Regions from separate parts of the Homo sapiens genome. Here region 1 is linked to region 2. A link means that fine-mapping ties the variant in region 2 to the expression of a gene that starts in the linked region. Tissue or cell type: esophagus mucosa. Region 2 holds a variant in brackets; the other region holds the start of a gene. All regions are shown on one strand. Distances are between the middles of the regions.

Region 1 (5,141 bases), 39 kb after region 2:
AGCACTTTGGGAGGCTGAGGTGGGTGGATGACTTAAATTCAAGAGTTCAAGACCAGCCGGACAACATGGGAAAACCCTGTCTCTACAAAAAGTACAAAAATTAGCCAGGTGTGGTGGCTGAAGCCTGTAGTCCCAGCTACTGTGGGGGCTGGTGGGAGGATCGCTAGAGCCTGGAAGGTGGAGGCTGCAGTGAGCCATGACGGCTGGGAGACAGAGACAGCAAGACCCTGTCCCCTCACCCCACCCTATCCTCCCAAAAAAGTGATACATGGTTCTACTGCCAGGCAGCGAGCAGTAGGAGCAGATCTGAACCTGGGTCCTGGGGGGTACGTACTCCGGGTAGCAGCTCCCACTGGAAGGTGCGTTCACCCACACCCCTTTCTCCTCTACTTGTCTGTCACTGTGGCTGGCACCACATCCTGCAAACCCAGGGGTATTCATCTACTGCTGGTAGAGCTAGCCCAGGCGTGCTCACCTAGGTGCCCAACCTGGGCCTTTCAAATACTGAGATGTAGTTTTAGTTACAACATAGCTAGTAAGTAACCATTATATAATCGGCATGTGTTTCCTTTCAACCCAATGAATCAGTCCCATGCAAAGCCTGGAAGCCTGAGACTTTCACTCAAGTCTGGTGTTCTGAAGGCAGTGTTTCTGTAGTTGTGAAATTATATTGAGCCACAATGCACTGTTTCCTGCACTGTGACATACTCATGTGACAGCCATGAGAAGGGGCCTGATTTGCCGTCAGTGGACAAGGTGTCAAGTGTTATCCCAAACTGTTTATGGCTGATGCTGGAGAAGGATATGGCTGTTATTAAAAGCATGAACAATCACTGACAGTCAACCCGAGTCAAGCCAGAAACAAAGGGAACCATCATTGGGATAAACAGCGCCTCCTGGTTTAGAGCAGGGCTTCTCCAGCTCAGCACTGTGAGCACCTGGGCAGGGGGATCTCCCTGTGCCTGCCGCCCTGAGCACGGGTGGGATATTGAGCAGCGTCCCTGGCCTCTACCCTCCAAATGCCAAGAGCACCTCTGCAAGGTCTTACCACTGGAAAAGTCTCCACACACTGCCAGTGGCTCCGTGTGGGCCCAAAACCATCCCTGGCTGAGAAGTATTGATCTGAAGTGTTTGGGTTTTCTGGGAGCTTTCTCAGGTACTGACTCACTTGACCTTCGACTGACTCGAGGCCCAGAGAAGCTATATGGGTTCGTTAAAGCCAGCGGCGGCCAGCTGGCGGGGGTGGCAGTATTGGGGTGGGTACAGGGGTCAGCCGACTCCTAGTCCTCTTTAAGCTGAGTTAGATCACCTGATGAATACTGGGCCTTCATTTCAAAACAAAGATTCAGAAAATGAAAACAAATCAAAATTTACAGAACCGTGTGTGCTGCTTTCTCTGCCTGCTCAAACCTCTGAATACCAGATGATAAAAGAATAACGATCTCACAGACTGACCAATTAAACTGACACGTCTTGATGGTACGAATTTAAGTTTCAAACAATGTCACTAAGGTCAATGTACACGAGCCCTCGTCAAAACGAAACGGCCGCGTCCAAACCAGTCCTGACCCGGGCGGCTGCAGCCCGGCCCCGGGAAGGCTCCTCCCGGCAGAGTGCGGAGACCTGGGAGGCGCCCGCCACCGGCCAGGCCAGCGAGCCGCTTTGTTCTCGAAGCCCACCTGGGCCTAGAGAATAAGTGTTGCCCCGGAGCGGGTGGGGGTCCCCATAAGGGGGGTTTGAGTAGTTCGCTCCCCAGCCACCCGGCTGCGTGAACAGCCCCCCAGCGAGCGCACGGCCTACCCCCCGCGCTCCGCGGCCCAGAGCGGCCCTCGCCCGGCCTCTGCTCGCCGGGGCGGCGGCGCGACCCACGCGCCCGGCCGGGGCCAGGGGTGCTCAAGATGGCGTCGTCACGGCCCCCGTGCCCGGGGCCCCACGCGAGGCCGGGCCCCAAGCGAGGCGCTGAGTGGGGAGAACGAGCGCTCGCGGCTCACGCCAAACGCCGCCTCTGCAGGCACTCGTGGAGACCGGCAGCGGGGCCCGCGCTCAGCTACAGCCCTGACCGCCCGCGCCGCTGCCCCGCGCACGCCCGCGGGCGCCCACAGCGCCGCGCCCGGCCCCGGCCCTCTCTGGGCTCCCCAGCCCCACTTCCGCCCGCGTCCCCGGCCCCGCGCAGGCCCCGCCGCCTCACCGCGGTCGAGCCCTTCTTGACGGCCTCCTGCGCGTACTCCACTTGGAAGAGGTGGCCGTCGGGCGAGAAGACGGTGATGGCGCGGTCGTAGCTCATGCCGGCGGGCGGCGGCCGGGCTCCTTCCGCCGCGACTCTCAAAAGCGCACACTCACGGCCCGCGCGCACCCGCGACTCCCGGCGCCACTACGCCCGCGCCCCACCCTCGGCGCCGTGTCCTGCGCTGCCGGCGACGGGCGGCGTCAGGCGGCGACGGGCAGCGTCAGGCGGCGTCGGGCGGACGTGATGGCGCGCGCCGGGGCGGGGTCAGGCCGAACCACCGGTGGCCGGGGGTGGGAGGCGGTGCTCCGGCGAGGGCCGGGCGCTGGGTGCGAGGGGGTCGCCGGGGGCCACCGTTCGGCACTGGGCCGCAGACCGTTCTGCAGGGCGGAGCGGCGGCGCCGCGGGCCCGGAGGCGCGGCGACGGCGACGGGGCGGACGAGCCCACGACGCGGCGCCCCCCGCGCTCCCGCCCCCTTCCCCCCCTCCGCGACTGCGGATAATGAGCGCCTCGGGCCGCCCAGCGCAGCCGGAGTATCCACCTCGATGACCACGGGCTGAGCCCCGCGCCGCCACCATGTCCGTGGCCTTCGCGTCTGCCCGGCCAAGAGGCAAAGGGGAGGTTACGCAGCAAACCATCCAGAAGGTGGGCCGGGCCGGAGCGGCGGCGCTGGGCGGCGGGTCTGCGGGCGGGCGCGCGCGGGGACGGGGCGCGGGCAGCTGGCGGGCGCGGGGCGCGAACAAAGCCGGGGCGCAGCCGGGCGGCCGCGAGCCCCGACGGCGGCCCCGTGCCCTTCCCCGCGTCCCACGCCTGCGCGCCGGCGGGCACCCGGCCGTGTGGGGGGCGGTCCCCGGAGAGCCTGCGCCAACTTTGTTGGGGCGCGCGGGTCCCTCGGGCCGGGGCACTGGGCGGTGGGGGCCGGGCGGACGCTGGAGGCTGCCGGCCCCCGAGCGCGCTGTCCCCCGAGTCCGCGGCGCGCGCTGGGAACTGTCCTGGGCTATGCCGGGCGCACGGGGACCCCTCGGGGCCGGAGCCGCGGCGAGGGCTTGTCGCGCTCCGCAGCCAGCTTCGGTGGCGACGGCGGGCGGTACTCGTTTTCTGCGCTCATTTTGGTTAGTGGTGAGGGGCCCGGGTCGGCCTCCGGGCGCACTTGCGACCGCGGGGACTGTGGCCGGGGCTGCCCCTCTTGCTCCTGGAGCGAGGCGCGAACGATGGAGGCACGGAAGGACGCGTCCCGATCCCCATTTGCGGGGCATCGTTACGCAGCCCGGCCCCGTAGGGAGCGCACCGCCCCCTCCGTATCCTCGCGGCTACGCCGGGTTTCAGCGTGACACCCTCGCCAGCCGCCTCGCCTAACAAACTTGACGGATTTGCTCCACAACCTTTCTTCTAGCTCCGTAAGTTCGGCCTTGTGGTTTTCAAGAGACAGCGTTTATGTGGGTTTGGGACACCGTTATCCAAAGCCCTAAGTTTTGAAATTGAGACTTTGTATTTTCTGCTGTTTTTTCTGTAGAAGACAGATTCGGAAGAAAATCAGCATTAGCCATACCCGTTTCAGTTGTCACAACATCTGTTGGAATGACATTGGTTTTTTTTCCTAAACTCTGACTCCGTCTTCACCCTGGTGGGATTGCAGGGATAAACAGTGGTATTCCTAGGTTCCCAGGAGCCGCTTGTCTCCCTAAGGGGGTTCACCTTGACCTTGACTGAGGCTGTTATTCCTTGATGACGTGCCAGTCTCCTGTGGAAGTTGTCCTAAATCTATCGCCTATTTTGAGACTACCTTTGCTGTTGCTAGTTTTAGAAATTTGATGGTCTTAACAAATGAGAACCTTGGCCAACTCTGAACAGGAGAGATTGAGAATAGCAGAAATACAGATTTACAAGTGTGGCATTTTAATTTACTTAGTAAACACTTATGTGGCGCTTACCGTATCCCAGACACTGTTCTAGGGGTTTTATAAATCTTGATTCATCCAATTCTTCATAGAAGCTACTGGCATCCCGTTTAATAGCTAAAGAGGCTGCGGCCTAGGGAGGCCGTGCCTTGCTGGTAAGTGGACACTGAGGCCTAGGGGGGCTAAATGCCTTGCTGGTAAGTGGCACAGCCAGGTGTCGATCCCATACGGTGGCTCCAGGGTCTGCTCTGTTGGTGCCCCTTGATCTGGGAACATTTGGCCAGGCGGAGGTCAAGCTCTAGGCTCAGAGGCAAATGTTGGAACCCAGAGCATCTCCTGGCACTCTGGTTTTTTGGAGCTTAACAGTCATTGTTCCTGAAGCTACCTTTGGCTGCAACGTTTATCCCATTATTTGCACTTCGCACACAGTTCCATTGAAGCTCCCCAAATTCTCCAGGTAAAAGTGTGTATTGAGGTGCTGCCCCGAACATCAGATCAGAAAGGAAGAAATGCACCTGTGGACCGTGGGTCCCTGGGCAGAAACTCAGCCTGCTGACCATTGGAAATAGGCCTTCAGTTTAGGCTGCTGACTTGGCTTGGTAGGGCCAGCAGTCTGCGTATTGGGCTTGGTGTTTTGACGGTGAATATATGTACCCAGGGATCTTTTACTGGGAGGTGTGAGAAGGCTGAGAAAGGTGTGAGAGGTGTATGTTCTATGCCTCAGACGTGTGCTGTGTCCACAGTGTGTGCTGGTAGTGTCATGCCGAGAGCTTTAAGAGAAGCCAGGGACCCCTCTGAAGCCTGCGTGGTAGTGAAGGAGAAGGAAGTCTACAACTTGTCCTTACAGCATTCTGCGTGGTAGCGAAGGAGAAAGAGGTCTACAACTTGTCCTTACAGCATTCTGCGTGGTAGTGAAGGAGAAGGAGGTCTACAACTTGTCCTTACAGCATTCTGCTTGGTAGTGAAGGAGAAAGAGGTCTACACCTTGTCCTTACAGCATTCTGTGTGGGTGGAGATC
Region 2 (5,141 bases):
CCTGGTCTGCCCAGTTGGTACTGCCCAGCTGTCTGTCTTCCAGCTGAGCCAGAGAGGAGATGCCCACAGATAAGCAGGGTCAGCCGTGTCCTCTGTGGTCCTCCCGTGAGTCTAGGGAGGGGATGCCCCAGAGGAGCAAGGTCAGCAGTGTCCCCTCTGTGGTCCAAGATCCAGGGAGAAGCGTGTGCTCTGCACGCTGTGCTGAACCAGAAGTCACCCCCTTACATTTGACTCTGTCTTCAATGTATTTTTAGAAGGAAACTGTAACCACTGCTGCTTCGAATGTGCTGTCACCATCATAGCCACCTCCCCTACAAAGACACAAGCAGGAGCCAGAGGCTGGGAAGCCTGGCAACCTCGAGAAATGGCACCTGGGATGTCACTTGCACAAGAAAAAGAAGACAGAGTGTGCCCACCTGGCCCAAGAGCTGAAGCCCGGAAGTGGGGTTGGGTGACTGGGCCAGGAGCCTCTGCCCTCGGTCCTCCCACCTCGGGAAGAATCCGGGGCACAGTGTTATGGGGCAGTTGTAGGAGTAGCCGACAAACAAAATCAGGAGACTTCTCGTCACATTCAGACTTCCAGCTTGCTATAGGTTGGATGTTCATCCCCTCCAAATCTCCTGTTGAACTGTGGCTACCAGTGCTGGAAGTGGGCCTGGCGGGAGGTGTCTGGGTCCTGGGGACAGATCCCTCGTGGCTTGGTGCTGTCCTGCCATAGTGAGTTCTCCAAGATCTGATTGTTTAGAGGCGTGTGGCACCGCCCCGCACTCTTTCCTGTTCCTCTTCTCGCCGGGTAATGTGCCTGCTCCTGCTTCCCCTTCTGCCTGAGTGGAAGCTCCCTGAGGACCCCCGGAAGCCGAGCAGCTGGCGATGCCATGCTTGTACAGCCTGCAGAACCGTGAGCCAATTAAACTTATTTCTTTATATTACCCAGCCTCAGGTATCTCTTTATAGCAATGCAAAAAAAAAAAAAAAAAGAAACAACAACAAAAAAAACCCCACAGCCTAACACACAGCTCCTCTTAAAAACCAGCTCTGGGCCAGGCACAGCGGCTCACGCCTATAATCCCAGCACTTTGGGAGGCCAAGGCAGGTGGATCACCTGAGGTCAAGAGTTCAAGACTAGCCTGGCCAACACGGTAAAACCCTGTCTCCACTAAAAATACAAAAAATTAGCTGGGCATGGTGGTGCATGCCTGTAATCCCAGCTACTCGGGAGGCTGAGTCAGGAGAATCACTTGAACCCAGGAGGCGGTGGTTGCAGTGAGCTGAGATCGCACCACTGCACTTAGCCTGTGCGACAGAGTGAGACTCCGTCTCAAAAAAAGAAAAAACAGCTCTGGAGCCGAGTTCCCACAAAGCAGCATTGTCTGTCTGCTTAGAGCTGGGGCTTCTTGACAAGCCACTTCATTTTTCTGAGTGTCAATGTATTTATCTGTAAAATAAAAATTTACTTTTAATTTTTAAAAAATGGCCTGGGGTGACAACTGCCCCACCCCCTGGGGTAGGATCTGTGCCCCTCAAATCTGCCCGCTCCCCAGCATTAGCACCGTTCCTACTAGTGAGTCTATGACCCCTGGGCCGAGGGAGTTAGGGTGACTGTGGGGCAGCTCTAGGCCCCTTCTCCCCTCCACTGTGCAGGGGCAGCCTCGGAGCCCTTCACTCCTCAGGCCTGGGCTGGTGCCCCTCCGTGCCTGCTGTGGGAGCTGGGGACGCATGCCACCCTCACGGGGTAGGCATGCCAGCCGGGGAGCCAGAAAGAACATGAGGCAAAGATGGGTTGAGTGCAGGGTGGACCCAGGGTGGCAGGGAGGAGCTGCTTGCCATTTGAGCCGGGTGGCCTCTCCGAGAGCAGAGGAGGCTGAGGCCCAGCCACGTGGGGTCTGGAGGAAGAGTCTCCAGGCAGGGGCAGCAGATGAGAGGGCACCAAGGCAGGAGTGTCCTCAGGGGACAGCAGGGGGACCCGAGTGGCACCTCAAGGGGGAGGAACAGGGAGGTGGGCGGTTGGGCAGATCCCCAGGCCTCTCCACATTCCGGAAGGGATCCCCCCTGGCCTTGTGTGCACCAGGTGAGGGGCCAGGGCAGAGGAGGGCCAGGCAGAGGCTCCTCCTGTAACACAAGCAAGGTGGCCGCGGCGGGGGCCGTGTGGCTGCAGGTTAGGTGTCGTTGGATTCTGCATAGGTGTTGAAAGTCAAGGCATTGAGATTTCCTGGCCCCAGCTGTGAGAGAACGACGTGGGGGTCATGGAGAGCTCCAGGGCCTTTGCCTGAGCACTGGTGGTGGGGACCGATGCCACTGGGGCGGGTGGAGACAGATCTGCATCCCTGGCATCAGAACTGCAGTCCTTTGCACGCAGCCCCAGGGGGACGGGAACCTGCG[G/A]TCCGGGAGCCATGGGGGCTGCAGCTCAGGGAGAAGCCCCCACGTGGTGAGGTTGCACATGGCCAGGCCAGGACTGGGCGCTGAGCCCCAGGAGGAACCCGAGGGAGACTAGAAGTGGGGCCAGCAGAGAGAGGAAACCAGGGGATGTTGGGGAGCCCGGCAGCAGTAGGAGGGGGGACTGTGGCCGAGCTGCCCCTCCCCACCCCAGAGGACAGCTTAAGGGACTTAATCTCCAGGAAGTCATGGGTGACCTTGACCACGACAGCATCAGCTTGTGGCAGAATGGCAGTGATTGCAGGGGCAGTTCCTCTGGCGTTTGCAGAAAACAGGAGGCAAGCTTGCCGGGGATAGGGGGTTACGGGAGGGGGGTTTAGAGTGGACAAAATTGCAGGATACTTGGGGGCTACTAGGGATGGCTCTGAAGAGAGGGGAAAGCTGAAGTTCCCAGGAGAGGACTCAGCAGAAGGGAAGGGAGCCCAGGGGGGCCGGGGGAGGAGCCGTGTGGAAGGAAGGAGACAAGAGATGGGTGGAATGGGAAGAGGAGGTGGGAGGCAGGGGAGGTGGAGAAAAGGAGGGGGAGGTGGGAGGGAGCCCTTGGGAAAGGAGGAAGAGTTAGGTGTTGGGGGAGGTGGGAGTGAGGGATACACGGGAGGCAGGAGGGACTGCCTGTAAGGACTTGGACTCAGCCAGGCGCACAAACAGCAACCAAGAATGATGTTTGCACATCTCAGGCCCAACTTTTACAACCACTTTGGAACAAAACCAAAGACAGTAAACACGGTGAAGTCATCCAGTGCATGTGAAAGAAAAAAAAATATTGTGTTCTTCATCCAAACAGTGAATGTTCTTAGCATTTCTGAGAAACACAGGTCACGTGGATACTAATCAGGGAGTGCTTCCTGGAAGAGGTGGGAGTACGGGCAGAAATCAGCCAGGTAGAGGGGAGGTGGCTTTCCAGACAAGACCATGGGCTGAGCAAAGGCCCCAGATGGAGGAGGAGGAGGAGCGGACAGGCCAGTGTGGGGAGGGTCTGCGTCTGCTGGGAGCAGAGAGAAGCCCCATCACACCGGCTCCTTCCTTGGGAGGCCTTCTCACCTTCCTAGAGGGAGCAGCGCCCCCATCCTGCTCCCCCCACCTCCCTGCAGCCTGCACCTGCCTATCAAGAAGCCTTACCCCATCTCAAGCACACACTTGGGTATACGTTGGTCTCTGCCACCAGCTGCAGCTGATCTCTGCCAGCTCCGCAAGGGAGAGCCCTGTTGTGTTCAGTTCATTATTGTGTTTCCAGACCCAAGACAATGCATAAATGTATGAATGAATAATAGAAATGAATGGATGGATGGACGGACGGATGGATGGATGGGTCGATGGATAGATGGGCAGATGGATGGATGGATGGATGGACAGATGGGCAGATGGATGGATGAATGGATAGATGGGCAGATGGATGGATGGATGGATGGATGGATGGATGGATGGATGGGTAGATGGATGGATGGATGGATGGATGGATGGATGGGCGGATGGATGGATGGATGGATGTGCAGATGGATGGATGGATGGATGGGCAGATGGATGGGTGAATGAACAGATAGGTGGGTAGGTAGATAGATGGATATGTGCATGAATAGAAGGATAAGCAAATTCATGGGCAGATGAGTAGATGCGTGGGTGGATGCATGGATAGATGCGTGTGTAGCTGAATATCAGTTCAACTCTATTTTCTTAGGACTGGGTTGTTGCCTTTTACACCCCCAAAACCTTTATCCAAAGGCCTTTCTCACATTACTTTTCTCTTTCTCTTTGTTCTCAAGAAGTTCTTGCCTATAACCTTTATTTCTGGACATAATTACAAATAACCTTACATTGTTATTTAAATTCTTCATGTTTACACATTTAGCTTATAAATAATTCAAGAGGCTAATGCTGACTTTGAACTAGACTCACTACCAGAGTGATAAATCAACCATGTTTGAACCCCTGTGGACTTGGCAATGTTCTAATCATTAAGATGATGACACCGGGCATGGTGGCTCACGCCTGTAATCCCAGCACTTTGGGAGGCAGAGGAGTTCAAGACCAGCCTGGGCAACATAGTGAGACCCTGTCTGTACAAAAATAAAAATATCAGGTAGGCATGATGGTGAGCGCCTGTAATTCCAGCTACACAGGAGGTTGAGGCAGGAGAATCACTTGAACCCAGGAGGCAGAGGTTGCAGAGAGCCGACATCGCGCCATTGCACTCCAGCCTGGGTGACAAAAGTGAACCTCCGTCTCAAATAAATAAATAAATCAGCTGGGCATGGTGGTACATGTCTGTAGTCTCAGCTACTCAGAAGACTAAGGCAGGAGGATCACTTGAGCCCAGGAGGTCGATGCTGCAATGAGCTGTGACCGCACCCTTGCACTCCAGCTTGGGTTACAGAACGAGATCCTGTCTCAAAAAAAAAAAAAAAAAAAAAAGATAAAAAAGTGTTCTGCTCGAGCTCTTCTTGGGGACTGGGCCTGCCCTGGGATGCATTCTGCAGAGATGTCCCTGCCTGGTCTTCAGACATAAGGGGCCTCACTCGAACCTTTTGAAGCTCCCCATTGCCCCTTGCCCAGCCTCTCCTTGGCCCACCCATACCTGTGCCCCCACTCTCCCACCCTAACCCTCCCAGCCTTACCTCACTCTACGCCACCTACACCTCTGCCCCTCCAGCCACTCTGGTCTCCTTCTAGCTCCCCAGAGGTGCCATCTTCCCTTCTGCCACGGGACCTTT

Which allele goes with the higher level. Positions count from the first base shown, and alleles are read on the strand shown. Sizes are in standard deviations (SD) of each study's normalised expression.
With allele A in place of G in region 2, the expression in esophagus mucosa of the gene that starts at base 2,750 in region 1 is higher (small effect, 0.23 SD a copy in GTEx).

What was found. PIP is the estimated chance that this variant, and not a neighbour inherited with it, causes the effect.
Region 1: it holds the start of SS18L1, and the variant in region 2 is fine-mapped to the expression of SS18L1 in esophagus mucosa (GTEx, PIP above 0.99). The same link has a PIP of 0.9 or more in sun-exposed skin and unexposed skin.

Annotation. Positions count from the first base shown.
Region 1 is chr20:62,141,020-62,146,160 of GRCh38, forward strand. SS18L1 (SS18L1 subunit of BAF chromatin remodeling complex) reads left to right here and starts at 2,750. Exons shown (of 11, transcript NM_198935.3): 1 at 2,750-2,870. The coding sequence starts at 2,802. It overlaps PSMA7 (proteasome 20S subunit alpha 7), which reads right to left and starts at 2,375. Exons shown (of 7, transcript NM_002792.4): 1 at 2,189-2,375. The coding sequence starts at 2,284. RefSeq lists silencers at 1,577-2,216, 2,257-2,966, 3,087-3,146, 3,177-3,226.
Region 2 is chr20:62,101,996-62,107,136 of GRCh38, forward strand. LOC105372706 (a long non-coding RNA gene) reads right to left here. Exons shown (of 3, transcript XR_936963.2): 3 at 1-888. Among named protein-coding and RNA genes, the nearest start is that of LSM14B, 18 kb to the right of the region's middle. The variant G/A (reference allele first, on the strand shown) is at 2,380.